3 separate regions of the Homo sapiens genome follow, and all the other regions are linked to region 1. Evidence: fine-mapped expression QTL. A gene starts in region 1. Each other region holds a variant in brackets. All regions are shown on one strand. Distances are from middle to middle. Region 1 holds the start of GSDME (gasdermin E). Region 2 overlaps GSDME (gasdermin E). Region 3 overlaps GSDME (gasdermin E).

Region 1 (5,558 bases):
CATAGATCACGGACTCTCGCACAGAGCCTTAAAAGTTATATTAGCAGCCGGGCCTGGTGGCTCATGCCTGTAATCCCAGCACTTTGGGAGGCCGAGGTGGGGCGGATCACCTAGGTCAGGAGTTTGAAACCAGCCTGGCCCAACATGGTGAAACCCGGTCTGTACTAAAAATACAAAAATTAGCCAGACATGGTGGCAGGCAGTAATCCCAGCTACTCGGGAGGCTGAGGCAGGAGAATCACTTGAACCTGGGAGGCAGAGGTTGCAGTGAGCCAAGATCCTGCCATTGCACTCCAGCCTGGGCAACAAGAGCGAAACTTTGTCTCAAAAAAAAAAAAAAAAAGTTGTATTAGCAAACAGTCCTTAGTCTGGCTTCCCAGCTGAAAGCAGATGAGAACTAAAAAGGCCAAAGCAAATGCAGTAAGGATATCCTAGCTTGAGTCAGACTCTTGGACAAGAGACCTTGTGGGGCAGACACCAAGAAAGCAGGACAATGACACAAAGTTAGCAAAGCACACAGCCAACTGGAGCCACTGGGAACAAAGAATCTTAAAAATAGTTGCCAAGGTAATGACTGCAGGAGAAGATAACTATATTCACTACTGCCTGTTAAGACTGATTCAGTCATGGAGTTATCTAGTTTTTAAATTAGAAGAGAAACCTCATTCTTTCTCACACTCCATTCAGGATTCTTCTTAAAAGCAGCTCTGGTTGAACCCTGGGCCTCTGCCTGAAGAGTTCTAGAAAAGAAACTTCAACATCAAATACTCTAGACAAAGAGAGGAGCAACTGTTTGTTGAGTATCTGCTATGTTCCAGGCATGGGTCTTACTGCCTTATACACATTTCCTTATTTAATCTTCATAATAACTCTTTGAAGTAGGCAGTGTGAGGAAGCTGAGGTTCAAAGATGTTAAGTAACTTGCCCAAGATCACAGCAAAGAAAGAAGCAGCCCTATCAGGGAACTGGCCTGGAACTATCAGGCCCTGGTGTTGCTGACCATGAATAATGGCACAGAGCATCAACATCAGGCAAGGCCAGTCTTGTCATGATAAATCAACATGAAAACAAGGCTTCTCTGTAATCATGCCTGAACACAGACAAAACATGAACACGTTCAAAGCACAAAAATGATCAAATACCACCCCCCTTCCAATCATTAGCAGTCCTAATGAGTGACTGCTGCTTCCTGACCAATCACAGCTATAGCCTCTCTCTGGCCTTCTCTCATTTTTGACGAGATTTACGAGGATACTCAATCACAGAACTTCCCCTGCTTCCCTGACCACATCCAATTCAGAGCAAAGCCCTCTTTCCCCAAATCACCTACTACATGCCCAAATCCTCTGTCCTTTCTAACACCTCTTATTGAGACATCTCAGGGTTCCCCATGGTGTCCCTCACTTTAAGGAGAAATAAACCAACTTATTGAACTGACAGTGTGTTCCTGGAGGTCTTTGACTGGAGGGGATTGAACATCACATAGAGAATCAGTGCTGAGCCAAGATTCCACCCGAGGTCCACCTGACTCCAAAGCCTGTGCCCTTGACCACTCTACTCTGCTGGCTCCCTGTTCAGCTTTTTTTCTGTTCTAATGTGGGCCTCATATGACTCATTCTGTAACATAAGAAAGTGCCCTTGAAAAAGGTAAACCTCAGTTACGGTGGAAACAGAAATCATTGCTATGGAACATGTGTCATTTCCTTTCTATCTGGGGAGACGAAACATGGCTGTACTTGTCTACTTGTCTCATTGTTAGCAATTTCAGCATACTTTGAATTAGTTTTAGTTTTCTAGATAGCAAAGTGCAATTGGGTCTATTAAATTAGAACAGAGGTGGCATCTTTTATCTTCCTATCCCTACAGCCCAGTACCTGAGCTCATTTTTAATGAGAAGACAAATTAATATTTCATCATTTCTTTCTAAAATAAAAATCGGTATGTGAACGCAATGATGGTCATAAGACAGGCAGGAGCTCGAAAGGAGAAGGAGAGTGAGGCGCCAAAGGCTTTGGGGAAGTGGAGTGGGTAACAGAGGGCAGTCTGGGTAAGAATAGAGAAGATGCGGTGTGGTGGCAGGCACCTGCGGTCTCAGCTACGGGTGTATGGGAGGATCCCTTGAGCCCAGGAATTCAAGGCTGCAGTGAGCTAGGATAGTGCCACTGCACTCCAGCCTTGGTGACAGAGCGAGACCCTCTCTCAACAATAACAAAGAACCTAGCCAAGGGACCGTGGCTAGGGGGTTGGGCCCTTTCTCTCTCAGATCTACCTAATGGTCTGGGCTCAACTTCTCCTTTAGAAAAAGAGCTTGGTGGTGGTAGATTGTGAAGACAATTAATTTCACTCTTCAGCTGCTTCTCCAACCCCACAGCACTCCTTTCATTCCACTTGGACTTGCCCCACCTGCCTGCGTCTCGAGGACAGCGACCGCAAGCCATCCATCCCTTTCATTATCCCATTCACTATTCTGGACAGAGTAGACTCTGGAGGAGTGGGTGGTCGGTGTGTTCAGTCCACAACCAGCGCTTTTCTAAGAGGTGCCCTCTAGTCTTTCCCCTCGGGGTGCAGACGGCAAGCGGCTCTGGAAAGGGTCAGAGGTCCTCAAATGGAGACCAAAGGAAGCCACGCGGGCAGCTCTTGAGAGCCATTCCAGCGCATGCCAGGCACACCGAGTGGGGCTTGGCCTCCTCCCCAAGCTAGGAGCTCTCTAGATACCGGAGCAAAGTGGAGGGGGACTTTTTTCCGTCCAGAGAGACTGAACTCCGTATCTGTTCCGCGGTCCGCCTCCCTGCACACACGCCCCCGAGCCGGGAGAGCCTCCGCAGCACCCAGAGAAGAGACCGGAACACAAAGGATGAACGAATGGGGAGGGGGGGTTTGGGGGGTTGGGAGAACGAAAATACCAGCTGCGCTTCCAACATCCAAGGAAGGAAGTGGCAGCGGGGACGGGGAGAGGATGGGAAGGGGATGCTGACTGCGAGTTGGGGCGGGACGCGGTGATGGGAGGGGACCGGGCCGGGAATGCGGGAGGCGAGGGGAGCGACGGGACCTGCCGTTCCGGCGGCCGGGCAGCCAATCGATTCGTCTCCCCTAGGAAGGAGCGAGGGGAGGGTGGCCCAGAGAGAAAGCGCCGCGCGGCCTCGGCTGCCCCCGGCCCGGGACACCCAAACAGACCAAAGAGGATCCGGAGTGGAGCCCGGAGCGGATCCCGCAGCCCGCGCCCGCCGCGCACTTACCCGCGCGCCCGCTGCTGGGTCCCCGGCAGCCGCGCCCCCTGCGCTGGCGGAGTCGGAGGAGCCTGCGCTGGGCCGGCGGGGGGCGGGCGCTTGGGGAGGGCGGAGAGAGGGCCCGCCCGCCGGGACCTTTGCTCGGTCCGGGCGCCCCAGAGCCGCGGGACTGGCCGCCGGAGGCTGCGGGAGGGGCCCGGGCCAGACCTCCCAGAAGCCCCAGAGAGAGCCGCTTCCCCTCCTTCGTGTGACTCTCTGGGAGCCGGGTTGCTGACGGCCCAGCGCTCAGCCGGAGTCCCCGCGCGCTTTTCGGGACTCACCCGGGAGATGTCGGGGCCTCTCGGGAAGAGTGGGCTGCGCCTGCCTTCCGCGGCCGCCTCGCCTCTTCGCTGCGCGGGACCGTGGGGTTTGAGAGCGGCGCCTCCTCGCGGGGCCGAACCCGCCACCCACAGTGGAGTGTGGACTGACACCGCGGCCTCACGGTTCAACCAGGAAAGTCCAAGGCCTGTCCAGCCTGTGGGAGCCCCTAATGCCCGTGCCTGGAGTAGTATCTGGGTGTGTGGTGCGACAGTGCCCACACTTAGGCCTGCCGCTAATCAGTGATTCATTCCTGTAAACTCCACTCTAAGCTCCTTGAGGGCAAAACCAGGCGCTCTCACACACTGGGTGCTCAACGAATACTGAACGAGGGAATCTCAGCATAGCTGGTGCTCAAACATTGCTTTCTGATGAACTGACTTAAATATTAGCTCTTTTTGTAACATTAGGACCAGCTGAAACCGATTAACCATTACTTAAGTTGTTACAGCGAGGCAGAGCCAAAATCTCCCGGGCGTGTGCAAGAGGGAAAGCTTTCTAATTGTGAACACCGCGCGCCCCGCAGAAGGCTGCATTGGCATCACCTGGGACTGGTTAGAAATGCCAAAAACGCCTGACCCGCTCCCAGGTCCAGAAGACAGATTTAAGCTTTGCCTCTTGTCTCCTTGCCAGTTGACTGGCAATAGAAGTTTTTCTTTTCTCAAAAGCCTGTGCCACAGTTTGGTTTCTGTGTGCCTCAGGTTACGAGCCCATTGCTCAGTGACACTTTCAGTCAGTGTATCGTCTTCACTGTGCAATGCTCTCTACTAAGCTGAGAGCAAAGAGTAAGAGAAAATGAAATTTCTGCCCTGCGAGAGCTCACACAGTATGGAGTTGTGTGGCTGTCTTAAAGGCTGTTCGGGGAGGGCAGGTAGAGAAGCCCGGCAGCGCTTTCCCTTGGGCCCCGCTATGCTTTAAACATATCTCTAGATTGCAATTATCCACCTCACTGTAAAGCCTTTCCTGACTATCCAAATTAAAAGTGCTGCCCACCCACCCACGGGAACACCTCCTAGTTCCTCCTCTGCTTTATTTTTCTCTTTGCACTCACCACCATCTGATAGACTGTGTGCCTCTTATTTCATGTATTATCCTCTCCTGTAAAATGTCAGCAGCATGAGGGCAGCTGGTCTGTTTTGTTCCCTATGCCCAGCACCTAGTTTAGGATTTGACACATGGTAGCTATCCAGTAAATAATTGTTGAATTAAGAAATGAATCCTTTTGTTTGTTTCTCCACCTAGACTGTGGGGCAGTACACATCCTTGCAGTACCCAGCGCAAAATAAGTGCACAATTAGTGGTTATTGGATGAAGAAGTGGTTCGAAATGGTCCATGGTGGTAGGCCCCTGATTTGCTAATGTGATGAGATGTTGGACGAAAGAAAGAATCCCAGCCCTGTCAAGAGACTTTTCATGTATGCTATTGGTTCTCTATCATTATAAAATTATACGGTGATGATTCTGGCTTGTTGCCAGAGATTATTGCATCCCCCGCTAGGGTACTGACCTTAAGAATATCCTCATAAACAGCATACTCATCAGGTTCCCACCCCAAAAAGCCCCAGTCCTCTATCTAGATAGTTACCACTTGTAATTCAGAGTGGGTGAACTTTTTGATGCAACAGTTACTAAGTGGCTTCAAATTCTGTCACTTTTTTTTTTGTCCTGCCTAGTCTTTTAATTAAATGCCCGAGGAAGATAGTAATAATATCAGCTGCTATTATTTATGTAGCACTTTCTGTCTACTGTCACCAAGCATGCTTCTGAGTACATTACATGCAATGATTGGCTCATTTAATCCTTACAACTATTTGGGGGTTTCAAGTTACAAATGAGGGAATTGAGGCACAAACTGGAATGCTCATACAACTGGGAAGAGACAGAGCCAAGATTTTAACCCAGGTTGTTCAGCACCATCTGAGTTTTAACCCACCATAGGGTAGACTCTCCAGAACAGAAAATAAGAAGTGCAGA
Region 2 (5,558 bases), 38 kb before region 1:
TGGTCTATCACGGCCCTTTTAAAAACTGCTGTTACAGAAAATGTCAAACTGCACAGGAATAGAGAGGAGGAGCGTGAACCAGCGTGTGCCCATCAGCCAGCTTCAGCCACTGTCCCCTCTCAGCCAAGCCTCCTTCCCTCGGCAGCTGCCCATGCTCACACCCTTTATGCTCCACTCATATTATTTTTGAATCAAACCACAGACATATTACCATTTCATCCGTGAATGTTTCAGTGTACATCTCTCAAAGATAGGATGACTCATTTTTATAAATATAACTATAATACCATTGTCACACCTAAAAAACTTCACAATTTATTATGTTACATTTACCCACTCATGTCCCTAAGGAGCGGTCACACAGCTTTCATGAGTGAACACAACCTCTTCTCATTGGGAACATGAGGAGGGAAGGGGCTGTGAACACCTAAAGTGAGCAGACACGCTGAACCAAAGCTTGGATTTTCTTCCGTGACAACAGCTGGGTCTCTGCGCTTTGAACACACTCGTGATCAGCAGAGGAAAGTCAAGTTCAGCATGTCTGGCTTCATACTTGTGGAGAGGAGGTGGGGTAACAATAATGATGATAATGCTATTAATAGCAAAGGTGGAGGAATTAATAAATGACCACTGTGCCAGGCGCTTCATAGGCCTCATCTCATTAAATCTTCACACAGCCCTGTGAAGAAATGCCCTTCACCTTCCAGAGACAGGGAAGCCAAGACTCAGCAAGATTCAGCAACTTGCCTGAGACCTCATAGGACATCATGGCACCGGGGTTGATGCCCAGTGTGTCTGATGCAGAGCCCAGGTTGATGCCCAGAGGACACAGCCCAGCCCTCTACTGTGCTGGTGGAACTTTGCCCCACACCAATGTTGGAGGAGAGGGTGGCATTGCTCCAGGCATCCCTCACCACACCCCTCCCCCAGTGCAGCCCATGTGTCCAGGGACCATGTCTTGGGACAATCTACGCTCTTCAGACCTCTTTCCCTCTCTTCCCACAGTCTCCAAAGCAGTCGAGTCCTCTGGAAAGCAGTCAAGTCCCTCTGCTGAGGGATCCTCTGCTGGGGATCCCTCAGCACCCATAGGAGGTGGCACTCACCGAACTGGCCGTCCAGTTTCACGTATAACTCAATGACACCGTAGGCAATGGTGGTGGCAGCTGGGATCTCCAGCACCACGTTGGAGTCCTTGGTGACATTCCCATCCTCCGTCGCTGACACCTGTGGGCAAAAGCGCACACTCCCACCTGTGCACTCGGGCTCTCCAAGCTGCTCTGTTCCCCACTGCAGCCAGCCTCGTGCCTTATACATAAGAGATGCTGAGCAATGTCCACAGAACCGAGTGGAACAGAGGAGCCAGCCAGCATGGGGGATGGGGGGATTCAATCCTTGTTGGCATCAGTACACAAATTCCCAAGTAAACGGCCAACCTGGTGGCATCAAAGCGAGATTATAGAGCGTGGGATACAGTGAAGTTAGGTCTACAGTGCTGTGCAAAGATCATACGATACGTAAGATCACCTCCCAATTCCCTCCATCACAGGTTATGGAAACAACTGAAATCCTAATGAAAACCTTAAACAGTAGCCAAGTTGGACTGGGAGAACCTAGCTGAGAGGGCCCCCTACCCCGTGCATATCACTCCAGACCCCTGTAGATGGTGCACAGTGCTGATAAAACCAGGAACAGAGAGGGAAGTGGGAAGAGGCCGGAGGGAGGAGAGGCAGGAAATGCCAAGAAGTCAGGCACCAAGCTCCTGCCTTTAAACACTCTCACAAACAGGACCCCTTCCCACGATGTCCTGGTGAGAGGAAGATGAGAATCTATTTGTTGGCCAAACACTGGCAATCAGAGAACTTTTCTTAGCAACTTGATCCTGGTCAGAGTGTGTTGCTTTGGGTTGAGAAATGGCAGCTGGCCTCCTGACTCTGAAAGGCTTCAACACTTTGGCAGGAAGTGACTGTGGCAGGAGCACCAGCAGGGCCGGCCTGAGCCATCTCCCATCGGCGCCTCCCTCGCTGCTACCCAGCCCCAACCCAGTAAGAGTGCTGGCCCCAGACCTCTACCTCCAGCTCCTTCCAAATACAACTTTCTGAGTTCCTCTAGAAAAAGCCAAAAGTCATCCCAAGAAGTAAATCTCTAAGAAAATATCAGCCACCATGGCAAGCTGGAGGAGAAAGAGTTTGGGGCTGATGGCCACCTAGTCCATTGAAGTTTAGTACTGGCTCACAGATCAGCTTGGTAAGACTGTCAATAACTTAATCTAGAAGAATCTATGTAGAGATAGCTAGATCTTACCTGCCCTAACTCAACCCACAAAGGATTTGCAGCAGCTAATTCCAAGTAATCACTGTGAGAGCCCCAGCTCTGAGAGGCTCTAGGGATTCTTTTGCATTTGGCCTGATCAGTGCCTGTGTGTTCATTTTTCTTGGGGAAACATCTGCCGCCCACAGGAAGAGCACCTGACGCCAGCCCACCTGGCCCATTCGAGTGCCTGCAACCCTGCCCTGCTTCAGGAATGAACATATCCCGGGACGGTCTGGTGAGACCCAGTCCTAGGCCCCCCTCACCCCTGGAGTTGCAGCAAATCAGGAGCAAGCCTGGAGCTGCCAGCACCATAGGGAGAGCCCATCTGAGAGGGCATCAACCCAGGGAAAGCAGCTCCCTATATATCCTCAAGGCCTGGATCCAGCAGTGACTGGAGCCAGTTTCCCCAAGTGTTTCAGCTACATGAGCCAATACACTCTTGCTCATTTAAGACAACGTGAGTTGGGTTTCTGTTAACTTGCTACGGAAAGAGTCCTGACTAATGAAGACACCACCCAAAGAGGCCCCCAACCAAGGTCTCCAGGACTGCTCAGCCATGAACGCAGGGCAGCCCGACTGCACGCACCTGCACCGTCTTGGTCTGGATGCCCACGATGCCACCACACTTCTCCTCGACCTGCATGTGCTCAGAGATCACACACTTCTGCATCGTCGTGATCTTCTGTGTCAAAACGCACAGGACCTCATTCCTTCCTTCCAGCACCTGCTGGAGCACAGGGTTTCTCAGATTTATTGTTCTGAAAAAGAAAAACGGATGTGAGTGGCTTAGTGCCTCAGGGGACATTGGTGTAGTGTGAATTTCCTCTTGCACAGCAGGCAGCTGAGGAGTGAGCAGGTGACAGCCAGGCTTTGTTGATTTCCTCATGATGAAAGGGGTGGCAGGTCACCTGGAAAGACATAAACCAAACTCTCTTGAGGCCACCTCAGAGCTGCCGGGCCTCTGGGGGCCAGGCTAGATGCCAGAGGGAAGGGGGCTTTCAGTCAAACAGCAGCGCCGGTTGTCAAGGAGAAGAAAAGAAAATCAACCAGGGCCAGGC[G/A]TGGTGGCTCACACCTGTAATCCCAGCACTTTGGGAGGCTGAGGCAGGCAGATCACTTGAGGTCAAGAGTTCGAGACCAGCCTGGCCAACATGGTGAAACCCTGTCTCCACCAAAAATACAAAAATTAGCCAGGCGTGGTGGCACACACCTGTAATCCTAGCTACTAAGGAGGCTGAGGCACGAGAATCGCTTGAACCTGGGAGGCGGAATTTGCAATGAGCTGAGATCATGCCATTGCGCTCCAGCCAGGGCAACAGAGCAAGACTCCATCTCAAAAAAAAAAAGGAAAAGAAAAGAAAACTAACCAGGAAGGAAACTGCAATCCATGTACCTTAGACCCTGGAAACTCCACTTTTTTATTTAATCAGAGCTGAAGGATGTCAGACGTCACAGCCATGGCCCAGGGAATACAGGATTATGATGGGAGGAATGGTGACCAATTGCTTCTCATTGAGAAAGGAATAGGCCTAAAGTATGAGTAGCAAGAAGGAAATTAGATTTGAACTAAGAGGAAACTTCTTAACCTGTCTAGGAAAGATGTTTCATCTCTTAGAAGGGGTTTGATGTCTTTTTACACATGGGGAAACTGAGGCTGGTTATGCATGGCCTATCCAGAGTCACTCAGCAGAGATTTGGGGCTCCCACCCAGCCACTTGAAATTCTGCAAACTTTCAAGAACAGACTAAATTTTTATTTACAGGAGATGATTTCATGCTTAGAAGCAAATGATGAAATAACTTCTCTGGAGATCTCATTCAATACTATGATTCTATGAAATGGACAGGAAAAGAACCAAACTAGAGTTGGTGACAGCACAAGAAAAATTATGGTATCCATGCTGGTCTTTTTTTAAGAGGTTAGTTACCTTGAAAAGCTCAGCACCCATCCCTGACCACACACATGCTGGGTCACCCATCCTAGACAGACTCAGGTTCTCTGGGCTTCAGAAAGTAGCCCTGGAACTGGAGTGAGTAGCTAGGAAAGTCCCATCTCAATGTAATCACCTGCCCAGAATAGAAACAACTCACGTGTCCATCAACAGATGAATGGAGAAACAAAATGTGTTATAGTCATATAATGAGATATCATACAGCCATAAAAAGAAATGAAGTTGGGCCGGGCACAGTGGCTTATGCCTGTAATCCCAGCACTTTGGGAGGCCGAGGCAGGTGGATCACCTGAGGTCGGGAGTTCGAGACCAGCCTGACCAACATGGAGAAACCCCGTCTCTACTGAAAATGCAAAATTAGCCAGGCACATGCCTGTAATCCCAGCTACTCAGCAGGCTGAGGCAGGAGAATTGCTTGAACCCGGGAGGCGGAGGTTGCGGTGAGCTGAGATTGTGCCACCGCACTCCAGCCTGGGCAACAAGAGCGAAACTCCGTCTCAAAAAAAAAAAAAAAGAAGTGAAGTTCTGACATCTGCTGCAACATGGGTGAACCTTGAAGACATTATGCCAAGTAACACACTCCAGGGACAAATGAGCAATATTGTGTGGTTCCTCATATGAAATATCTGGAACAGGCAAATTCATAATGACAGAAAGCAGATTGGAGGTTACCGGGGCTGCAGGGCTTCGCTGCCTGATGGCTGCAGAGTTCCTAGTTGAGGTGACGAAGAAGTTCTAGAAATGCAGAGTAGAGATGACGGCACAACAGGGTGAATGTATTTAATGCCACTGAATTTTACACTTAAAAATGGTTACAACAGTAAATGTTGTGTCTCATCTATTTTACCACAATAACAAATAGATAAGACATAGGAAAAACGGGTTCAATCTTAGTACTGGTTAAGGAAATTCAAATTATAAAAATGTCTCACACGTGATAAAAATACATTGATGACAACCACAAAGCTGCCGAGAGACTCCATTTCCAGGAAGGAACAGGAAACAGGGACCCTGGAGCCTGCAGGGCTGGGGTTCGGATCTCAGCTCTGCCCTCCCACTGGGCAAGCTCGAGTGAAGGGCCACCTCTGCACCTAGGTTTTCTCGTGCATGAACTGTTGGTAACAGGGCCCCCTCCTCATGGGGTTCCGTCAGGGTTTAGATGACATGCATGCAGTGAGCCATTAGGGTGTGCCGAGCACAGAGTTAAATGCCACACAAACACTAGCTGGCTCCGCCCACCTTCCCGTGTCCCTCTATGAGGCTCACAAAACAAAGCCACAGTGTGTGCCCTGCATGGGAA
Region 3 (5,558 bases), 29 kb before region 1:
TGCAAACAGACTAACTCAATCTCCTCCTAGCTGAGCTACTGCTCCAGTCCTGAAGCTTAGTTTGCACATCTGTAAACTGAGAATTTGCTATGAGGGTTACGTTCAGTGAGATCTTGCATTAAATGACCCACACTCTACCCAGCAGATGGCAGGGGCTCTGTAAATGTTTTTTTCCTTCCACTATTGGCAGGGAAGGCAAGTCAAGACCCCTTTCCAGGGTGGTCAAAGAAATGGCCAGAATTTTCAGGATGCTTTATAAGGGAGCCCTCAGCCAGGTGTAGGAGGACGAGCCGCAGACAAAACTCCTCAGATACCAAGTTAAACAAGGAAGGGGTTTATTCGGCCGGGAGCGTCGGCAAGACTCCTGTCTCAAGAGCCAAGCTCTTGAGTGAGCAATTCCTGTCCCGTTTAAGGGCTCACAACTCTAAGGGGGTGCGCATGAGAGGGTCGTGATCGATTGAGCAAGCAGTGGGTACGTGACTGGGGGCTGCATGCTCTGCTAATCAGATTGGAACAAAATAGGATGGGGATTTTCACAGTGCTTTTCTATACAGTGTCTGTAATGTATAGATAACATAACTGATTAGGTCAGGGGTCAATCTTTAACGACCAGGCCCAGGGTGTGACGCCGGGCTGTCTGCTTGTGGATTTCATTTCTGCCTTTTAGTTTTTACTTTTTCTTTCTTTGGAGGCAGAAATTGGGCATAAGACAATATGAGGGGTGGTCCCCTCCCTTAAGGAAGTGGACCCTCAAAGCAATTAAGAGCATGGCTCCATGGACACAGGACAGGAGTTGGATACAAGACGCGGATACATTCAAGACAGCAGCTACATGATACAGGACGAGAGATGGCTGGAAAAGGAGACCAGGCAGGAGCTGCTGGGAGGCGGCAGGCAGAGATGGAGGGAGGGAAGCGTGGCTCAGAGCCCAGCGTGGTTGCTGGGGACCAGAGCAGCCCAGCAGGAAGGGAGGCTCCAGCTCTTCCAGCATCCATCAGCTCCCCAGGCCCAGCCCTAATGAAGCCGCCTCCTCTCCCAGCCTGAAGCTTTAATTTCCATTTTCTCTGCTTCTAAGACTTTCAAGAGCCAAAATGCAAACTCACAGAGGAGAAACCCAGAGACAACTTTTAAAAGTCTGACAATATCCAAAAGGAGGGAAGCAGGTTTCTTTACCAAAGCATAAAGGAGGTCCCGGGGATGCCTCCTGCAGAGACACAGGAGGGCGAGCTTTGTCATGCAGACCCCACACTTCAACTCTCCTTCATTCATCTCCACAAATACCTGAGTTCTGCTATGCTCCAGGCACCAGGCCAGATGCAAGTTTCTCAGGGAAGAGGCCAAGGCAGCCACCACTAGCAGGGTCCTCTTACACAAAAACCCTTGATAGTAACAATGGTAGGCCGGGCGCGGTGGCTCACGCCTGTTATCCCAGCACTTTGGGAGGCCGAGGCGGGCGGATCACGAGGTCAGGAGATCGAGACCATCCTGGTTAATATGGTGAAACCCCGTCTCTACTAAAAATACAAAAAATCAGCCCGGCATAGTCCTGGCTACTCGGGAGGCTGAGGCAGAAGAATGGCGTTAACCCGGGAGGTGGAACTTGCAGTGAGCCGAGATCGCCCACTGCACTCCAGCCCGGGGGACAGAGCGAGACTCCGTCTCAAAAAAAAAAAAAAAAAACCAATGGCCTCGAGGAAGAGTTTCCAATGGAAACCCTGGGGAGCCTGGTAAGGCTCTCCAAACCCCAGGGGACATCATGACAGAGCAGGAGCTTTTGTTGAGTCTGCTGTGGAGAAATTATAAAACTAGAAGGGACCCAAGGGGATTATCTAGCTCTGGGCAGAAACTCAGGTTCATCTTTATTTTCACCTTGATTAATCCATCAGCTATTACTGCCTGGCTGTAGGAAAAGGATTCTAAGGCTGAGTGTGGGCTGGAAGACAGTAAGGAGGAAGAAAGCTGTGATTAAGTGGCAGTGTCTGCTTGGACATGGGAGGGGGATGGCCCTGATCACCTAGATCTAACCCAGTGTCTCTGCTCATTAGTGAAGAATGTGCCCCAGAGAGGTGACAGGCCCACCTGAACCACATGGCCTGTTAGTGGCAGTGCCAAAATCAGGAACTGCATCTTCTGACTCTGAGACCAGTGTGCTTTTCCACTACACTCTTCTAAAGAACAACAAAAAGTGAAAGGTACAAATGCAGACTGAGGAAATGGTGCA[G/A]TACTGCCAGAGCTGGTTTCAACATCTCCCCAGAAACAGAGATGGGGACATGACAGAGAGCCAAAAGGTGGTGGCCAGCCTGCTGCTCAAGGAATATTAAGCAAGAATTACTAACCCACAGAAACAGAGATATGTATTGATGATAAAGGCTTTAGTAAATCCAGAACTTCTCCCAAGGGTTTTGATTTATTGGCTAAAACTACAGTTTACAAAGGATCACACGTGTGTTCACACACCAGCTGTAGAGTAGGAAAATTAGGTCCACAGACATTGCCTGTAAACTCCTTGGCTTTGCCTTTGTGACATTTCATTAAGTGGGAAAGTCTGCTTCTCTCTTGATAACCAACCTCCTCCAGTCTACAGAGATGGCAGAGTTTTATTTCAGTAACTGCCCCCCTAAAATCCTGGAACACACACACCATTGCCTCCTTCATCTGCCGATTTCCCCTCCAAGGGAGGCTCCATTCACCCTTTTCAAAGACTGTAAGCTTTTTGACAACGAAGGCAGGAGAGCAGCGCTCAAACCACATCTGTGCTGCTTCTGCAGGAACTGTCCCCAGCATCCTGTACCGGGAAGGCTGCAAAACCCTCCCACACTACGAGTCGGGGGTGCCACTAGCTGCCGTCCCCAGCACTGTTCGGGAGCTAGGGGGGCTGTAACGGGAGGAAGAGACAGGGTGCACCCAGCCCTGCCAATGAGTCTTGATTTGTCTCTCGGCCATTCTTGGTCACTCCGTTTTTCTTATCAGGAATCGGGGGCAATTCTGGCCAATGAGACCTGAGGAAAATCTGTTAGGGGTTCTCAAGTTTTTCTCCCTCTTAAAAAGGGACACAAAGAAGAGGCCACTTTTCTGCCTCTGGACCTTTTGTCTGCAATGTGGCTGCCATTTAGGGACCAAGAGAACTTGAGCTGCCAGGACAGATGGCGGCTGCCACAGGGGCCCACAGAGCCACCGAACTGACCTTCTGCCGTTAACCATTCAGTCAACCGGGACGCACCCTCTTCGAGATGTTTTCTTATGTGAGATAATAACAAATGTTCTTTGCAACCAGACACCCTAACTGGTATATGAAGTGACCATCATCCTTATTTCAGAAAGCAACAAGAAGCACGAAGAACTCAGAAGCCAAGGGGCTGGGTGAGAATGCAGCTCAGCACCATCCACCCTCGAAGCTCTGCGCCCATCTGCCTCTCCCTCCTGAACCTTCCTGGGCCCTGCATACAGAAGGCGCTTAATGCATGCTTGATTGTTAAAGAACTGGCAGTCTTTCTGCTCCATCCCATGAGAGCTTCCCAGAGTCAGGAAGTGGATCCTCTTGGAAACGAAAGCAGCCGCCCACTGTCTCCCCCGCAGGTACTAGCAGTCCCCATTTCAACCACGTTTCATAACAGAAACTTCCCACACATCAGAGATGCTCAGCCCACAGCCGGGGGCAGGAAATCTCTAGAAACCTCAACTCCTGTGCCCTGGGCCTCCACTTCCAACACAGTGAGATAAGCCCTGCTCTTTCTCTCTCTGTCACTTGGCTGTAATGTAGATGACTTCAGGATTGTAAAATGCTGGGAAAATCAAAATTGGGGCAGAATGCTCACTGCACATTGTTGCCAAAGTGACCAAGTCACCCGCAGACTGTGGCTGCTCCGCCTCTGTCCACATTATAGTCTCTAATACCTTATCTTACTCACATACGACGACCCCTGGAAAGAGAAAGGAAAAAATGACTGAGAACCTGTAGATGTTCAGCCCTTTAGACGAGTAATTAATTAACTGCAACCAGTGGATGAAATGCAGCAAGCCTGGAAGATGATAAACCAAACGCAGCTGATGCCCAGAAGTGACTTCACGCCAAAGCCCTTGGAACATGTGTCTGTTTCCAAGCTCTGTGCATAGAAGTTGGATCGGAAAAATCATGTGTTTAGTGAACTTGGTTTTAAATCCTGAATCTAGGCAAACTAATTAATTTCCACATTCAGGCTCCTCAGTTGTAGAATAAAGATAAACCAATTATCCTTTCAAGCAAACTGGGCTCAGTGTGCCAAAGGCACTGCGCCAGACCCCACAACAAAGGAGGCAGGGCGTTCCAGGAGGGAAACGGACACAGACGCAGGCAACTTCCGACACACTTGACCCTACGGCGTGGTTAGTATGCCACCAGGGGTGATGTGGCTCCTGAAGGAAGTGGGGTCTAACCTAAGGAATACTGAGGAATTGGCTGGGTGACACAGGAGAAGTGAGTCTGTGTGTGTCCTTCATGCCTCTGTGCAGACAGGAGGAGTGAACATCAGACAAGGACTGGAGGTAGAAGGAGCCTGGAGTATTAATCCCAGGAACTGAAATTAGCTCAGCGACTGACCTGGAGGATGTGAGGGCAACTGGTGAGAGATTAGGCTAGAGATTGAAAGCATGGCTCTGTTGCACAGAGGAGCCTGTGGGCATCCTCCTAGGACAGGGGAGAGCACAGAAGGCATGGCTGGGCAGTAAGGGGATCCGACTGGCTACCCTGTGGAGAATCAACTGGAAGGGGAGAGACGAGAACAGGTAAGAGATGGTTGGTGGAGGCCTGCACCATTTCCCAGAGAAACTGTCATGAGACTGGGGGAATGGGAACAGATAAGGTTGATATTTAAGAGGCAGAATCAACTGGTAAGAGACAAGGTGTGGGAGAGAAGGTGAAGAAGGAGCTATGTCTGATATTCAGATTCCTGGCTAAACCAACTGGACTCATGCCTCACCCACCAGCTCACTGGAGGGTTCAGAGAGATGAGAAGTGCAGTGATGAGTTGAGTCTCTGTGTCAAACACTATATGAACAGCCCAAGTGGAACAAACATCTGCTCACCTGAATTCTAACTCCTGACTCATCCCAGCCATCCTGACTGTAGACACTGCAGCTCATCAGTTCTGAGACACATATTTTTTTCTTTACATTTTAACATCTCAGAAATCAGGATGTTTTAAAATTGATAGGTGGCATAGTTTAATTGGCAGTGTTCTTTCTCAATGGTACATAGAATAATGGTGCCTCTTTCAATGGATGACATCTTGGATTTGAAGAAATACAATAATGCCTATCAGTCTTAGAAGAAAATAGTACTTGAATGATTCTTCTTAGGACTTAAATCCTACCTAGTTCCAAAAAGATCTGAAGTTGCCTTTAAAAATAAAGCTCAGCTGGGCACAGTGGCTCACACCTGTAATCCCAGCACTTTGGGAGGCTGAGATGGGCAGATCACAAGGTCAGGAGTTCAAGACCAGCCTGGCCAATATGGTGAAACCCCGTCTCTACTAAAAATGCAAAAATTAGCTGGGCGTGGTGGCACGCACCTGTAGTCCCAG

The links. PIP is the estimated chance that this variant, and not a neighbour inherited with it, causes the effect.
Region 2: its variant is fine-mapped to the expression of GSDME in whole blood (TOPMed, PIP above 0.99).
Region 3: its variant is fine-mapped to the expression of GSDME in whole blood (TOPMed, PIP above 0.99). The same link has a PIP of 0.9 or more in blood mononuclear cells and monocytes.

Annotation. Positions count from the first base shown.
Region 1 is chr7:24,754,160-24,759,717 of GRCh38, forward strand. It overlaps GSDME (gasdermin E), which reads right to left and starts at 3,305. Exons shown (of 10, transcript NM_001127453.2): 1 at 3,237-3,305. It overlaps LOC124901820 (translation initiation factor IF-2-like), which reads right to left. Exons shown (of 3, transcript XM_047421177.1): 2 at 3,503-3,778; 3 at 2,165-3,410. The coding sequence ends at 2,697. RefSeq lists silencers at 2,855-2,904, 2,915-3,494, 4,305-4,454 and an enhancer at 3,575-3,804.
Region 2 is chr7:24,716,151-24,721,708 of GRCh38, forward strand. GSDME (gasdermin E) reads right to left here. Exons shown (of 10, transcript NM_001127453.2): 4 at 2,897-3,068; 5 at 1,104-1,224. Among named protein-coding and RNA genes, the nearest start is that of GSDME, 39 kb to the right of the region's middle. RefSeq lists enhancers at 1,530-2,117, 2,404-2,603, 2,724-2,913, 4,411-4,510. The variant G/A (reference allele first, on the strand shown) is at 3,369.
Region 3 is chr7:24,725,144-24,730,701 of GRCh38, forward strand. All of the region lies in intron 3 of GSDME (gasdermin E), which reads right to left. Among named protein-coding and RNA genes, the nearest start is that of GSDME, 30 kb to the right of the region's middle. RefSeq lists enhancers at 609-1,292, 1,293-1,974, 2,295-2,514, 3,385-3,494. The variant G/A (reference allele first, on the strand shown) is at 2,222.